Homo sapiens: one gene and its partner. The protein of the gene in region 1 purifies or fractionates together with the protein of each later gene. This does not show direct contact. Each region holds a gene or a part of one and is shown in the gene's direction. Other genes may lie near its edges.

Region 1 (4,448 bases):
CACCTCCACCCCTCCTAGCACCTCCTGACTGCTTGTGTTCTGTGTCTCCCCACTGTCTCCCAACCTGGGGTGGGGTTGGGGGGGATGTCTTTCCTCCTGTCTGCTCTTTGATGTCCAGCTGAAGTGTCACCTCCTACAGGCAGCCTCCCCTGGCTATGCCAGCTTGTACTGATTGCCCTCTCCTCTGAATTCTGTAAGCATTTCCTATGTGTACCTGCCCCTGGGCAAGGTGGGCCTGACTTGTTAGAGTGTTAGAGTTTTACCCTGTTCCTCTAGGAGGGCCTGGTACCACCACAGCCCAGCATGGTGTGGTGCCTCAGCAGGAGGCATCTGGTTACAATCAACACAAGCTGTTCCAGCCAATTTAAAGAAACTTCAGGAGGAATAGGGTTTTAGGAGGGCATGGGGACCCTCCTGCACCCGAAGCCAGGATGTGCCACCAATCATAAGGAGGCAGGGGCCTCCTTCCGCTGCTCCCTGGGACTCTCTAGGTGTCCGTGGCCTCAGTCCCCCTCTGCACACCTGCATCTTCCTTCTCATCAGCTTCCTCTGCTTTAAGCGTAAACATGGATGCCCAGGACCTGGCCTCAATCTTCCGAGTCTGGTACTTATGGTGTACTGACAGTGTGAGACCCTACTCCTCTGATCAATCCCCTGGGTTGGTGACTTCCCTGTGCAATCAATGGAAGCCAGCGAGGCAGGGTCACATGCCCCGTTTAGAGGTGCAGACTTGGAGAAGGAACGTGGGCAAGTCTTCCCAGGAACAGGTAGGGCAGGGAGGAAAGGGGGGCATCTCTGGTGCAGCCCGGTTCGGAGCAGGAAGACGCTTAATAAATGCTGATAGACTGCAGGACACAGGCAAAGGTGCTGAGCTGGACCCTTTATTTCTGCCCTTCTCCCTTCTGGCACCCCGGCCAGGAAATTGCTGCAGCCTTTCTGGAATCCCGTTCATTTTTCTTACTGGTCCACAAAAGGGGCCAAATGGAAGCAGCAAGACCTGAGTTCAAATTAAATCTGCCAACTACCAGCTCAGTGAATCTGGGCGAGTAACACAAAACTTGAGTGTCCTTACCTGAAAAATAGAGGTTAGAGGGATGCTATGTGCCATTGTGTGTGTGTGTTGGGGGTGGGGATTGGGGGTGATTTGTGAGCAATTGGAGGTGAGGGTGGAGCCCAGTGCCCAGCACCTATGCACTGGGGACCCAAAAAGGAGCATCTTCTCATGATTTTATGTATCAGAAATTGGGATGGCATGTCATTGGGACAGCGTCTTTTTTCTTGTATGGTGGCACATAAATACATGTGTCTTATAATTAATGGTATTTTAGATTTGACGAAATATGGAATATTACCTGTTGTGCTGATCTTGGGCAAACTATAATATCTCTGGGCAAAAATGTCCCCATCTGAAAAACAGGGACAACGTTCCTCCCTCAGCCAGCCACTATGGGGCTAAAATGAGACCACATCTGTCAAGGGTTTTGCCCTCACCTCCCTCCCTGCTGGACGGCATCCTTGGTGGGCAGAGGTGGGCTTCGGGCAGAACAAGCCGTGCTGAGCTAGGACCAGGAGTGCTAGTGCCACTGTTTGTCTATGGAGAGGGAGGCCTCAGTGCTGAGGGCCAAGCAAATATTTGTGGTTATGGATTAACTCGAACTCCAGGCTGTCATGGCGGCAGGACGGCGAACTTGCAGTATCTCCACGACCCGCCCCTGTGAGTCCCCCTCCAGGCAGGTCTATGAGGGGTGTGGAGGGAGGGCTGCCCCCGGGAGAAGAGAGCTAGGTGGTGATGAGGGCTGAATCCTCCAGCCAGGGTGCTCAACAAGCCTGAGCTTGGGGTGAAAGGACACAAGGCCCTCCACAGGCCAGGCCTGGCAGCCACAGTCTCAGGTCCCTTTGCCATGCGCCTCCCTCTTTCCAGGCCAAGGGTCCCCAGGGCCCAGGGCCATTCCAACAGACAGTTTGGAGCCCAGGACCCTCCATTCTCCCCACCCCACTTCCACCTTTGGGGGTGTCGGATTTGAACAAATCTCAGAAGTGGCCTCAGAGGGAGTCGGCAAGAATGGAGAGCAGGGTCCGGTAGGGTGTGCAGAGGGCCACGTGGCCTATCCACTGGGGAGGGTTCCTTGATCTCTGGCCACCAGGGCTATCTCTGTGGCCTTTTGGAGCACCTGGTGGTTTGGGGCAGGGGTTGAATTTCCAGGCCTAAAACCACACAGGCCTGGCCTTGAGTCCTGGCTCTGCGAGTAATGCATGGATGTAAACATGGAGACCCAGGACCTTGCCTCAGTCTTCCGAGTCTGGTGCCTGCAGTGTACTGATGGTGTGAGACCCTACTCCTGGAGGATGGGGGACAGAATCTGATCGATCCCCTGGGTTGGTGACTTCCCTGTGCAATCAACGGAGACCAGCAAGGGTTGGATTTTTAATAAACCACTTAACTCCTCCGAGTCTCAGTTTCCCCCTCTATGAAATGGGGTTGACAGCATTAATAACTACCTCTTGGGTGGTTGTGAGCCTTAACTGAAGTCATAATATCTCATGTTTACTGAGCATGAGCTATGTGCAAAGCCTGTTTTGAGAGCTTTATGTGGACTAACTCCTTTAATTCTCACAACACCCTTTAAGGCACAGATACACCACGTTATTCCATCCATTTTACAAATGAGGAAACTGAGGCATGGAGCAGTTAAGCATCTTGCCCAACATTGCCCTCCAGTAAGTGCTGGAGCTGGAATTTGCACCGTGCAGTCTGGCTTCATGGCCTGCCCTGTGAATCCTGTAAAAATTGTTTGAAAGACACCATGAGTGTCCAATCAACGTTAGCTAATATTCTCAGCCCAGTCATCAGACCGGCAGAGGCAGCCACCCCACTGTCCCCAGGGAGGACACAAACATCCTGGCACCCTCTCCACTGCATTCTGGAGCTGCTTTCTAGGCAGGCAGTGTGAGCTCAGCCCCACGTAGAGCGGGCAGCCGAGGCCTTCTGAGGCTATGTCTCTAGCGAACAAGGACCCTCAATCCCAGCTTCCGCCCTGACGGCCAGCACACAGGGACAGCCCTTTCATTCCGCTTCCACCTGGGGGTGCAGGCAGAGCAGCAGCGGGGGTAGGCACTGCCCGGAGCTCAGAAGTCCTCCTCAGACAGGTGCCAGTGCCTCCAGAATGTGGCAGCTCACAAGCCTCCTGCTGTTCGTGGCCACCTGGGGAATTTCCGGCACACCAGCTCCTCTTGGTAAGGCCACCCCACCCCTACCCCGGGACCCTTGTGGCCTCTACAAGGCCCTGGTGGGCATCTGCCCAGGCCTTCACAGCTTCCACCATCTCTCTGAGCCCTGGGTGAGGTGAGGGGCAGATGGGAATGGCAGGAATCAACTGACAAGTCCCAGGTAGGCCAGCTGCCAGAGTGCCACACAGGGGCTGCCAGGGCAGGCATGCGTGATGGCAGGGAGCCCCGCGATGACCTCCTAAAGCTCCCTCCTCCACACGGGGATGGTCACAGAGTCCCCTGGGCCTTCCCTCTCCACCCACTCACTCCCTCAACTGTGAAGACCCCAGGCCCAGGCTACCGTCCACACTATCCAGCACAGCCTCCCCTACTCAAATGCACACTGGCCTCATGGCTGCCCTGCCCCAACCCCTTTCCTGGTCTCCACAGCCAACGGGAGGAGGCCATGATTCTTGGGGAGGTCCGCAGGACACATGGGCCCCTAAAGCCACACCAGGCTGTTGGTTTCATTTGTGCCTTTATAGAGCTGTTTATCTGCTTGGGACCTGCACCTCCACCCTTTCCCAAGGTGCCCTCAGCTCAGGCATACCCTCCTCTAGGATGCCTTTTCCCCCATCCCTTCTTGCTCACACCCCCAACTTGATCTCTCCCTCCTAACTGTGCCCTGCACCCAAGACAGACACTTCACAGAGCCCAGGAGACACCTGGGGACCCTTCCTGGGTGATAGGTCTGTCTATCCTCCAGGTGTCCCTGCCCAAGGGGAGAAGCATGGGGAATACTTGGTTGGGGGAGGAGAGGAAGACTGGGGGGATGTGTCAAGATGGGGCTGCACGTGGTGTACTGGCAGAAGAGTGAGAGGATTTAACTTGGCAGCCTTTACAGCAGCAGCCAGGGCTTGAGTACTTATCTCTGGGCCAGGGACTGTATTGGATGTTTTACATGACGGTCTCATCCCCATGTTTTTGGATGAGTAAATTGAACCTTAGAAAGGTAAAGACACTGGCTCAAGGTCACACAGAGATCGGGGTGGGGTTCACAGGGAGGCCTGTCCATCTCAGAGCAAGGCTTCGTCCTCCAACTGCCATCTGCTTCCTGGGGAGGAAAAGAGCAGAGGACCCCTGCGCCAAGCCATGACCTAGAATTAGAATGAGTCTTGAGGGGGCGGAGACAAGACCTTCCCAGGCTCTCCCAGCTCTGCTTCCTCAGACCCCCTCATGGC
Region 2 (3,993 bases), on another chromosome or scaffold:
TTCTCTAAACTCCGACTTCCTTTCCCCAAGGACATCCCAGGAGGGTTCAAACGCGCCCTCTCTAAGGCACTCTGCCAGGTCTCCTGATTTCCAGTTTCCGGGAGGTGAGGCCGGCTAGGGTGCCCCGAGGGCCTGCTCTAGAGAAAACCGCCCTCAGGTGAGGACGGCTTCCATTTCCGGGTCTGAAGATAAGGAACAGCTTATCTTCGGTCTCCGCCCTCCTGCCTGCAACCCTCACCCACTGACCACGCCGGCCAGTCCGCCGCGCCAGGGCTGCCCTTGGCCTGGTCCCCGGGTCTCGGTGGACCTTCGACCCGGGCCTCCCAGCTCTGGCCTCCTGCATCCACCCCGCCCCGACCTCAAGCTGCTTCCGGAATAGAATGAAATCCAGCTCGTTAAGCTTCGCGGGGAGGTGTGTCCACCCGCCCCGCGCCGACTCCGGCCGCACTGTCGCACTTCACTCGCACCAGCCAGTGGCCAAAGTGCTTGGGCACCTATTGCGCCAGGCCAGGAGCCGGAAGTCTTACCTCGCCCTCACCCCAACTCTTTGCCCCACGTTCCCGATAAGAACATGGAGGCTCGGAGAGATTAATTTGCCCACGTGCAAGCGGCAGCTAAGGGGCGGACGCGGAACTTGAACCGTGTCCCTCCTAAACCTGCCCCTTGTCCGCCGCAACGCGCCCTCGACGCGCACAAAACCCTCACTTTGCTACTGAGGAAAGTTATTCAATGGCCAGAGACACCCTGCGGCTTTTGAAAAGAGGTTTCAGGCTGACAAATATCCATATATACATATATATTTATATTTAAGCCTAAAACGACTCTTTGATCCCTCCCCTAAGACCTCCTTCCCGTCCGCCTAGGCCTCGGTATCCCCCACCAGGTATGAGAAGGAGGAGTCTTCATTCTTCCCAGGCGGGGAGACCACGCCTTCCCTGCCTCCTCCCTCCGCGGGGGGTCGCGTTGGAGGTCACCCCCGCCCCCTAGGCGCTGGGTTGGGAGTGACGCGGGGTGGGCTGGAGAGGTTTCCTGCCGTCTGGGAAGCGTAAACGGACCGCCCACCTGTCGGGCCTCGGCCGCCCGCACCTGCTTGTGAGAAGCCTGCGGCTGGGGCACCGCCCCCGGTCCCCGCCCGGGTCCGCGCATTGGGAGCACACTGGCCCTTTAAGAGCGCGGCGGCCGCGGCGCGCGGGGAGGAGGGCTGGGAGCGCCCGGAGCCGCGCTGAACTCGCCGGGGACGTCGGGCGCCCGCTCCTTGGCTGGCTCGCTTGCTCTCTCGCTCGCTCTCTCGGGTCGGCTCCCTGCGCCTCCTCCCGGGACTGCTTGGGGACCCGGGCCCGGTCGGGCGCGGCGGCGAGCAGAATCCCCGTGCAGGAGGCGCGCGCTCCGGGCAGCGCCCGGCCCCGGGCATGGACAGAGGGAGCTGGGCGCGCAGGGAGCGCCGCGGGACCGGGCGGCCGGAGCGCTGAGCCAGACAAAGGCTCCGGAGTTGCGCTTGCTCTCGGGAGCCGGGCCCCAGGCGCTGGGCGCCGAGGCTGCGGAACCTCGCCGGGGGCAGCTCCGGTCGGCCCCCTTTCCCGCCGGCTGGTTCCGAGCTCCCGGACCTGCCCTGCCCGCTTCTCCTCGGGCTTGGGAATTTGCCGAGGCGACCTAGGCGGCTCCGGCGGGGACCGGGAGCCCGAGGTCCGCGGCGCGCCTGCCGGGCCAGGAGCCAGGGAGCGTCGCAAGTTTCCAAGGCGCGTGCGAGGATCCGGCGTGCAGTGTTCCGAGCTGGGCTGGGCGCCGAGAGCATGGGCAGCGACCCGAGCGCGCCCGGACGGCCGGGCTGGACGGGCAGCCTCCTCGGCGACCGGGAGGAGGCGGCGCGGCCGCGACTGCTGCCGCTGCTCCTGGTGCTTCTGGGCTGCCTGGGCCTTGGCGTAGCGGCCGAAGACGCGGAGGTCCATGCCGAGGTAAGACCCCCGCCCTGCCCTTTGGCTGCGGGCTGGGGGCTTGGAGGGAGAGGCGCCACGTCCGCAGGCTGGGACTTGGAGGTGGAGGGAGCGGAGACGCGCCCCCTGTTCTGGGCCGTGGCGGGGAAGCAAGCGGACTTGGCAGTCTGCCCCTCCCCAGCTCGCCCTCTGCAGCGCACCTCTTCGCAAACCCTTGAGGGCGCAGGGCCTCGCTCTCCTCCCCGCTACTCCTACAGCCCTGTTCTGGGCACTGAGCCCCCACCCCGACCCCCTTACATTCAGCCTGTGTCCCGGGAGCCGCTTCCGCCGCCCCCAGCCCTTGCCTCCCCTCCTTCCTTCCCTCCAGGGCAGCCGATTCCTCGAGAGCCCGGCTGGCGCGCAGTGGCGCTCTTTGCGAGTGGGGAGGGGGCTGCTCTCGGGGACAGCCACAGGCGGAGCAAGAGCTGGGCGGCTGGGCAACTGCGCTCCTGCCCAGGTGGCCTCCCGTCTGGGTGATACCGAGCCGCGCACGGCGGGCCAGGATGGAGGCGGGGGGATGGGTGCAAACGGCTGAGGCAGCGGACTCGGGTTGCGGGGGCGCTTTGGCGACTTTCTGCGCTTTTGCGAGGAAGCCTAGGCACGCCCGGGCGGGGTCCTAAGGACGGACCCTGCCTCCCACAGCGCTTCCTCCCAACAGCGCCCCTACGTCGAAGCCCTGGATTCGAGAGGGTGGACCCCGCGCCTCTCTTCGCTAGGAGCCCGCTTGGCGTCCCTCCCGGGGCCCCGCTCTGGATGGGTCCCGCGGGTGACCAGGCGCGACATCCCGGCGTAGAGCCGAGTCCAGCCAGCGCCCCAGCTCCATGGTGTCTCCCGAGCGAGGACACCGAAGGCGCCAGCTTTCTTGCCCCAGAGCAAGAGCAGGGTCCACTCTTCCCCGACTTCTAAGACCTGCGCCCTGCCCCAGATAGGCGGGGAGAGGACTTGGGCGGGGAGTAGGGAGAAAGAACCACCCCGGAGCCGCTTCTGAACGGTGCTCAGGCCTTGGTGCCCTTGGGCTGCCCGGGCTGCGGGCCTGAGCGCCGTTTCTATTTGCAGCTCAGCTGGTGCTCCCTCCCTGGCCCACGGCGGCTTTCCCACCTCTCCGGGCTGCCTGGGAGATTTTTCCGATGGAAGCTTGCCCTTCCCCGCCCTACTTTAATAAAAGCATAGAGGAAGGGCAGGGAATTCCTCCTGGGCTCGAGTTACACCTCCCAGCCATTTCCCCACCTGCTCTGCCCTCCCTCCCTGGCCTGGCCAGGGAGAGCTGAAGGAGGAGCCAGGCCCTGGTGGGAGGCAGGATAGGAGCCCCGCCCCGACCCAGTCTGGCCACCCTCCCCCACCCCATTCACACAGGCAGGAGGAGCTTTAGGGGGCTCCTGTTGGTGAGGATTACCCCTCAGCCTGTGACCCAAGTACTGGGCGGAGAGTGCCATTTGGGCCCACCTGCCACTCTGGGCTGGAGTGCCAAAGAATTTCAAGTCACAGTCCCACCATTGAGTTTCTAATCTACTTAGGGATGGCGTCAATACATAGGAAGCAGTGATGGAATTCAATGGCCGTGCATTGCTAATGGCATCCTAGCTGGCCAGGAGCTCAGGGGTGCAGGGACCTGTAGTTGGAGGGGCTTCACTCTCTCTCTCTTCTGCTTTTCCAGTTCCATCTCACCCCTACCCCAACTCCCCAGCTCAGGGAGTGCCCACAGCTCGATGCCGCCAGGGAAGAAGCCATGGTTGCGTTATCACAAACCGTGCTCCTGATCTGGAGGTTGTGACTGTCCTGGAGCCCTACTCCTGGGGAAACACTTGGGTTGGACCTGGGCAGTGACTGGAAGAGACCCCGGAAGGTTTAAGGAGCCTTGAATGTTGGCAGCCATGCAGATAGAGGGCTAGAGACAGGTGGAGTGTCCCAGCTCCTACAGTTGGCTTTGGGTACAGGCTGCTTCTAGGGTCCCATCAGGTCTGGCCACATGTGGGCCCAAAGAGTCAAATGGCCTCAGCAGCCAGCCCATCTGCCGGGGGCTGTG

What was found.
Region 2: the proteins of PROC (region 1) and MMP15 purify together in Homo sapiens (co-immunoprecipitation; one study listed by IntAct). This does not show direct contact.

The regions. Positions count from the first base shown.
Region 1 is NC_000002.12:127,416,779-127,421,226, forward strand, and holds the start of PROC (vitamin K-dependent protein C isoform 10 preproprotein), read left to right. Parts: upstream 1-1,648; 5' UTR 1,649-1,668; coding exon of another isoform or gene 1,669-1,734; intron 1,735-2,918; exon of another isoform or gene 2,919-3,027; coding exon of another isoform or gene 3,028-3,164; coding exon 3,165-3,234; intron 3,235-4,448. UniProt on the Homo sapiens protein: Protein C is a vitamin K-dependent serine protease that regulates blood coagulation by inactivating factors Va and VIIIa in the presence of calcium ions and phospholipids. Exerts a protective effect on the endothelial cell barrier function.
Region 2 is NC_000016.10:58,024,561-58,028,553, forward strand, and holds the start of MMP15 (matrix metalloproteinase-15 preproprotein), read left to right. Parts: upstream 1-1,193; 5' UTR 1,194-1,790; coding exon 1,791-1,952; intron 1,953-3,993. UniProt on the Homo sapiens protein: Endopeptidase that degrades various components of the extracellular matrix. May activate progelatinase A.